Linked DNA regions of Homo sapiens. Changing the gene in region 1 together with any one later gene gives a genetic interaction. Each region holds a gene or a part of one and is shown on either strand. Other genes may lie near its edges. The genes, in order: HBS1L and CIT.

Region 1 (3,822 bases):
GGAGGCGGAGGTTGCAGTGAGCTGAGATCGCACCATTGCACTCCAGCCTGGGTGATAGAGGGAGACTCCATCTCAAAAAAAAAAAAAAAAAGAAAAGAAAAAGATTTACTTAAATGAAAATGCTATCCTGAAAGCCAGAGGAAAACAAACCTTTCATGTTATTGAATTGCAGATGAAATGATCAAGTCAGCCCTGTTTTGTGAAGCCCTTCCTATTCTGGCAGCCCCTCTGAGGGCTGCCTGGATTGGTGGGGGAGCTGAGCTTCAAGCCCCTGCCCACTCTGTCCACCATAGCTGTCTGCTTTGATCTGTTTTCCATATTGAATTTAATGCAAGCTTGCCTCTGAAGAAAATGTTTTGCAGCTAAAAACAAAAAGATCTGGGGCCCGAGATTGTGATTTCTGCCAGGTCTGATTCAGACCAGAGCCTATGTCTAGTCACAGTAGATCACTTGTATTATAATTTGTGGGGCTTTAAAAATTCTTCTAAGTATAGAATTGTCAAGTTTTGGTTTTAGAACTAGCTGTGGTCATTCAAACAAATATTTGCAAATTATAGTCTGTTTGATTTCACTTAATTTAGCCTGTTAGAATCCTTTAAAAGTATGGGAACATTTCCTGCATATTACTGTTTTTACCTACTAGTTTAAGATGAAGTGCATCTGTCTAAGCAGTGCTCAAAAATGAACACCTAAATTGGTTAGTGGAGATTTGAAAAAGCAAAATAAAATGAGAATGGATATGTGGCTTTAAATAAAGTTGCAAATATAACTATTGTGACTCTTTTCCTGAGGCGTATTGTGAAGGGCTAATGTTGGGCATATAAAAATGCCCTGACAGGGAAAAACCAATGTATTTTTTGTTATAATAGGCAAGAAGAAAATAGATGTGCTTACACATATCCATCATGCTACAATCTTAAATGATTATTATAAATTGCTTTCTATATGTAGTTTTTCTTTGCCAGCTCCACATAGAGTTGGATATAATTGGTTTCATTCTTAATAACTTCCAATTTAACCTGCTCTTTGTCCTAATTCTGTTTATCCATAGTTGTTAAAGCAAAGTGAGGCATATCATAGTCTGATTATTAGGTCACATTCCTTATAGCTATTCAGAGTTGCACTGGTACTAGTTTCTATGTGGAGTGTCAACGAGCTCATGAAGAACTAAGATCAGTGTTTACTTTTGTTAAGGAAAGAATAAGTTAAGCTGGGCAGTCTTGTTTCTCCTTTATATATCTGAGTTCCTCACTAGATTGTAATCTTTTAAGAGTGGTAGTTAACTTTTTAATTTCTATGTCATTTTCTTTTTGACATCAGTCCCTAGTATATGTTGTAGTTTTTAATAAATCAAGTGTTTGTTGAATTAATGAATTAAAGCTCCACTGTCAAAAATGTTTATGAACTGTAGTCATTTAGAGATATCTCCCCTCGGGGTAGTATTTGAGTAAAAAAGATCATAAGTCTATCATGTTGGAAGGATGAGTTGAAGTAAAACTATATTTTAGTACTAATTCATCTCCAGTAATATATTTGGTGCCAATTTTACAAAATATCTCCTTCATACCATTGATTTTGATAGGATGGATTATATGGCCAAGACTGTGGGCTTGATTTTGAATTTCAGTTATTTTTCAACATTATTTTCTTCTTATCTTCATTTTTGGTACAGTTTTTCTCATGGGATCTTCCACGGTTGTATTTGTGTGGTTTGAGTCTAGCTACTTATCATTTCCACCTTAACAGACTTTAGCTACTTAGCAGAGATTATTTCTGGTCTGGAGCATAAAGGATTATGAAGAAACAGTTTCTCTGCCCTTCTGTCATTGTAGGACATCAATAGAGTTGGTTTCAAATACTTTTTTCCTATCTGCCTTCTGTAGAGTATCTTCTGAAGAAAATGGTCATAGTTTCCACACACCTCAAAAAGGACCGCCCATTGAAGATGCCATTGCTTCTTCCGATGTTCTTGAGACTGCTTCTAAATCTGCTAATCCACCCCACACGATTCAAGCATCAGAAGAGCAGAGTTCAACCCCAGCACCGGTGAAAAAGTCTGGCAAGCTGAGGCAGCAAATAGATGTGAAGGCGGAACTGGAGAAGCGGCAAGGAGGGAAGCAGCTACTCAACTTAGTGGTCATTGGTAATGCTCTTTGTCCCTCTGGATCGTCAGCCAGCCATGCCTTAGCCTGCCCACTGTCTGGAGGCAGCATGGAAACTCTGAGTTTCTCCATGGGTGGAATGGACAGAGAGCAAGGAGGCACAGTCTCATAATGCTTTCTAGTCATGTGGGGAGAGATAATGCCAAGTTACCAAAGAGGTCATTACACTTGATTGTGGGATTTTTCATTTTGTGAACATTTTGAAATTGGCGTGTCTTGTTGACAATTTTAATTTCCAAAAATCTGAGAAATTCCCCCCGTCTGTAAAGAGATATGCTCTTTTTTTTTTCTATTAGATGTTTTAACTGTCATTTGATAAATACTGGTATTACTGTAAACCACTGACATGAAATATTGAATTACACATTTATGCAATGCCTCAATGTGAACATCTGGAAATGTACCTGGTATTAATCCTGAATCAATTTTCTTTAGGTCATGTTGATGCTGGGAAAAGTACTCTGATGGGCCATATGCTTTATCTTCTGGGTAATATAAACAAAAGAACTATGCATAAGTATGAACAGGAGTCTAAAAAGGCTGGCAAAGCTTCGTTTGCATATGCATGGGTCTTGGATGAAACTGGCGAAGAAAGGGAAAGGTAGTCACTATATTTCAAAATTTTCAGTTTGAAATCATACAGTCTTCTAAAATAAGTGTGTAATATGTGTTGAATTTGTAAAACATATGAAATACTTTAGAGATTATTTTTAGAAAATAGCTTTTAGATATCAGGGAACTATTTTGACTTTTTTGATGTAATCTGCATACTGTTTTTACTCTTCTGAATTTTATAGAAATAGATTAAAAGAATGTTTAAAAGAAACAAAATAAAAGCCATGCAGAAAAACAACAGTAAAAATCATAAGCTGATTATTCTATGGGATAAGTTTCAGTTGTCACTTCCCTAAGTATTTGTCAAATTGTCTTGATTTTGAATTAAAATTATGAGTAAGACTTTTAATTTCATGTCAGCTTACAAAGGAAAGGTAACTGTCATAAAACCTCTTCTGTGTAGAATCTAAATAACCAGCAAATTCAAATTACCAAACAATTCATTTTTATACTTTACATATTATGTTTTTATGAGACAGTCTGCAAACAAGTAATTCTGTAGCTATAATGCAGTCAGTTACTCCTCTGTCTCTGTTACTGTCTGGCCAAAGAATAGTATTTCTTTTGAAGTCCTTTTAGAGTGTCAGTATAGATCATGTTAGGGTAGCTAGGGTAGGAGAGCCAAAGGACACCTTAATAATTAGTGAAATGGCAGATATATCAACTGTGTCAAAATAATGACTCTTTACAAACCTATAAAGTCCTGTGGAAGTCCTAGATTAACGAGATTAAACTGTGTTCCCTGATGTCTTCAATCTGATTATTGGAGAATATATCTGGATTTTCATGCCTTTTTAATGTGTATTTTCTTGCAGTCTTGGATAGTCTCCATTATAAACATATAAGGTAACGCTCTGTAAAGCAGGTCACAGTATTCCTTAGCTCTTCTGATAAACCAGAATTTGTATCATAATGGTTTCTCTTTCTTTGTGGGTGTCTTTAGTTCTTTATAGTATCACAGACCTGTTTTCTATCCTAGTAAGAAAAATTAGCTGGACAGTTGCCAATTTTGGAAAACAATGTAATTGTATATGATGCAATAGTA
Region 2 (3,822 bases), on another chromosome or scaffold:
TTTGATTTATGTATTCGTAAGTCAGGGGGACAATAGAGACCATGAAGATTTAGAATTGAATCCCAGTCCCAGCACTAGTTAGCTGCATTACTTTGGGTGAGTCAGTTACCTTTTCTGAGTCCATTTGCTATTCTTTAAAATAGGTTGTAGCCTGTAATGCCAGTATTTTCGGAGGCTGAGGCGGGCGGATTACTTGAGGTCACGGGTTCGAGACCAGCCTGGACAACGTGGTGAAACCCTGTCTCTACTAAAAATATAGAAAATTAGCTGGGCATGGTGGTCGCATGTACCTGTAATCCCAGCTACTTGAAAAGCTGAAGCAGGAGAATCATTTGAACCCGGGAGGCGGAGGTTGTCGTGAGCCGAGATGGTGCACTGCACTCCAGCCTGGGCGACAGAGTGGGTAAGACTCCATCTCAAAACAAAACAAAACAAAAGAAAACAAAAAAAATAACATAGAGGTTGTAGTACCTAATCCACAGGGTTGTTGTGAGGATTAGATGAGATATTCGATTTAAAGCACTTAGCACCTTGCCTGGCTCTTAGTAAACTCCTTATAAAAAATGGTAATTATTGTTAATACTCAGCATAGAATAGTATTAGTTATAATATTAATACTAAATTTGTTTCCTTAATAGTAATTATATTTGGGAAGGTAGTTATGTAGGATACCTGTAAGATGATGAATGATGAAGTATTCTTGATAACTTTTTTTTTTTTCCAAAATATTGGTATTGGGTGTTTAAACAGATGAGAGTGGAAACAAATTGAAAGCTTAGGTTTTTCTGTGGGACCATCCCCATCAGCATTTTAAGTCTTGACATATCTTTCACAAATGAATAGTCTGTCTTTAACCTTAGATGGCTGGAGTGCTGCCACGTTTCAGCCCCTTTATCATGCTACTTTAAAATATCTCCAACTTGCTGGGCGTGGTGGCTCACGCCTGTAATCCTAGCAATTTGGGAGGCTGAGGTGGGTGGATTGCTTGAGGTCAGGAGTTCGAGAGCAGCCCGGGCAACATGGTGAGCCCCTCCGTTTCTACTAAAAACACAAAAAATAGCTGACTGTGATGGTGTGTGCCTGTAGTCCCAGCTACTCGGGAGGCTGAGGCAGGAGGATCACTTGAGCCCTAGAGGCAGAGGTTGCAGTGAGCTAAGATTGTGCCACTGCACTTCAGCACTTCAGCCTAGGCGACAGAGCAAGACCCTGTAAATTAAAAAAAAAAAAAAAAAGAAAAGGAAAAAAATTTCCAACTTATTAAGGGCTTATAGTGTGCTGATTATGTAATAGTTATGGCTTCCAATGTGTCTGGCATAGAACTGGCATGTTTCTGAGTATCTCACTTCAGCCTCATGACAGAGGTAAGGACTATTTTTAATTTAAACTTTAAATAGGAGGCAACAGGCCAGGTGTGGTGGCTCACACCTGTAATCCCAGTACTTTGGGAGGCTGAGGCAGGTGGATTGCTTGAGTCCAAGAGTTCAAGACTAGCCTGGGCAAAATGGTGAAACCCCATCTCTACAAAAAATATAAATAATTAGTCAGGCATGGCGGTGTGTGCCTGTAGTCCCAGCTACTCAGGAGGCTGAGGTGGGGGCATCTCTGGGGCCCCGGAGGCAGAGGTTGTAGTGAGTTGAGATTGCAACACTGCACTCCAGCCTGGGCAACAGAACGAGACCCTGTTTCTAAATAAATACATAAATAGGAGGCAACAGATATAGACAGATATGGAGGTAGGTAAGGCCTTGCCCAAGATCATACACGTTGGGTTTTGCAGATGAGGCCAAGATCAGACTCCATCTTTGGTTGGTCTGACTCCAAAGGCTGACCACATAGCCATTGGGCCACAGCACCTGTGCACGTCAGAATTTATTAAGTATATCTTGTATTTAGTCATTATAACAGGAAGACTTATGGGTAAACCCTCAGTTCATCTCTTTTTAATGCTGAGATCCCCCTGCCCAGTAAAGCTATTATTGCAAGTATAGTATATACCTATCATTTGCCTTGAGTTATCAGGTAAGGATGCTGTTTGTTCTTTTCCCATATAGTGCTGTTTGAATGAGGTTGAGATACAGTAGCAATTTTGTTTTCCATTCAGGTGAGTACCTTAGACTGAGTGTCATTTTGTCTTTTTTACTTCTACTCAACAGGATTTCCTGACATGTTCGAGGTCAGTGATTGTCAGACTTTCTGAGCCAGCAAAATTTCCCAAATTGCTGGGTAGACACAGGTTTTCCAACTTTTTATTTTGCCAAGTAAGGATATATAAAAAAAAAATAAAAAGAAAGACCTATTATTTTCTGGCCCTTGTATTTCATAAAGGGCATTTTAAGAAACAACAAGACAGGAAGAACATCATCTCAGAATAAAGGACCATTTTTAAATTTGAATACATTTAGTTTTATAAAAAAGATATCATGTGGTGTTCATTTTTTCTCATTTCACTGCAGGCTGTTGAAAACTTTGTTAAGAACCAGTACTATATTTGGGAACCCCTGCTTTAATTGATCTAAACTCTTGAAGAATAGAAGAAACAAAGCATTTTATTTTTCTGAGTTACTGGCAACTATTACTAAAGTGACAGATATGGTGGCCTTGAATGCAGTGCTTCCCAAACCTGATTGAGGTCTGACTCTCTTGGGGACCAGGGTCTCATTCTGTTGCCCAGGCTGGAGTGTGGCAGCACAATCTTGGCTCACTGCAGCCTTTACTTCTTGGGCTCAAGTGATCCTTCTACCTCAGTCTCACAAGTGGCTAGGACTACAGGACCATGGCACTACACCTGGCTAATTTTTTTTTGTTTGTTTGTAGAGATGGGATCTCGCTGTGTTGCCCTGGCTGGTCTTGAACTCCTGGGCTCAAGTGATCCTCCCACCTTGGCCTCCCAAAGTGCTAGTATTCCAGGTGTGAGCCACCTCTCCCTGCTGGGGAACTTGTTAATAAAACAGATTCTAGGCTACAGTCTGGAAAATTCTAATTCATTTGGTTGTGGGGGAGGGGGGCATAGGACCAGAGAATGTGTTTGTTTGTTTGTTTGTTTTTCTTAAATTCTCCAGTGCTGTTGTGATTCAAATGCAGCCGGTCTGTTTCTGTTATCAAGTGCTGTGTAACAAAGCACTCACAAAGTTTAAAGCAACAATGATTTATTTTTTCTTAGGATTCTGTGGGTTGGCTGGACTCAGCTAGGTAGTTCTGCTTCATCCTGTGATGTCAGCTGGGGTCACTTGTGGGGCTACATTCAGCTGGGATTATGTCTGGGACTGGAACATGTGGGTGCTGACTGCTGGCTGGGGCACCTTAGTGTTTCTCACATGGCCTCTCTTCTCCATGAGGTCTTTCAGTAGTATAGCCCAGGACTCGTAACTTTTTTTTTTTTTTTAAGACAGACTGTCGCCCTGTCGCCCAGGCTGGAGTGCAGTGGCACGATCTCTGCTCACTGCAACCTCCGCCTCCTGGGTTCAAGCAATTCTCCTGCCCCAGCCTCCCGAGTAGCTGGGATTACAGGCACGTGCCTCCACGCCCGGCTAATGTTTGCATTTTTAGTAGAGATGGGGTTTCACCACGTTGGTCAGGCTGGTCTCGAACTTCTGACCTCGCGATCCGCCTGCCTCGGCCTCCCAAAGTGTTGGAATTACAGGTGTGAGCCACTGCACCTGGCTGACTCGTAACTTTTTTTGTAAGTAATAAATATTTTAGGCTTTGTGGGTCCTGTAGTCTCTGTTGCAACCACTCAACTTGGCCATGGTAGCACAAAAGCAGCTAAAGACAATATGTAAATGATGGGTGTAGCTGTGTTCCAGTAAAACTTATAAAAAGTCC

Evidence for each region.
Region 2: changes in HBS1L (region 1) and CIT together harm fitness more than expected from each alone (negative genetic interaction), as found in Homo sapiens cells (one large-scale study listed by BioGRID).

What each region holds. Positions count from the first base shown.
Region 1 is NC_000006.12:134,995,718-134,999,539, reverse strand, and holds part of HBS1L (HBS1-like protein), read left to right. Parts: intron 1-1,883; coding exon 1,884-2,143; intron 2,144-2,597; coding exon 2,598-2,763; intron 2,764-3,822. UniProt on the Homo sapiens protein: GTPase component of the Pelota-HBS1L complex, a complex that recognizes stalled ribosomes and triggers the No-Go Decay (NGD) pathway.
Region 2 is NC_000012.12:119,870,679-119,874,500, reverse strand, and holds part of CIT (citron Rho-interacting kinase), read left to right. Parts: intron 1-3,822. UniProt on the Homo sapiens protein: Plays a role in cytokinesis. Required for KIF14 localization to the central spindle and midbody. Putative RHO/RAC effector that binds to the GTP-bound forms of RHO and RAC1. It probably binds p21 with a tighter specificity in vivo.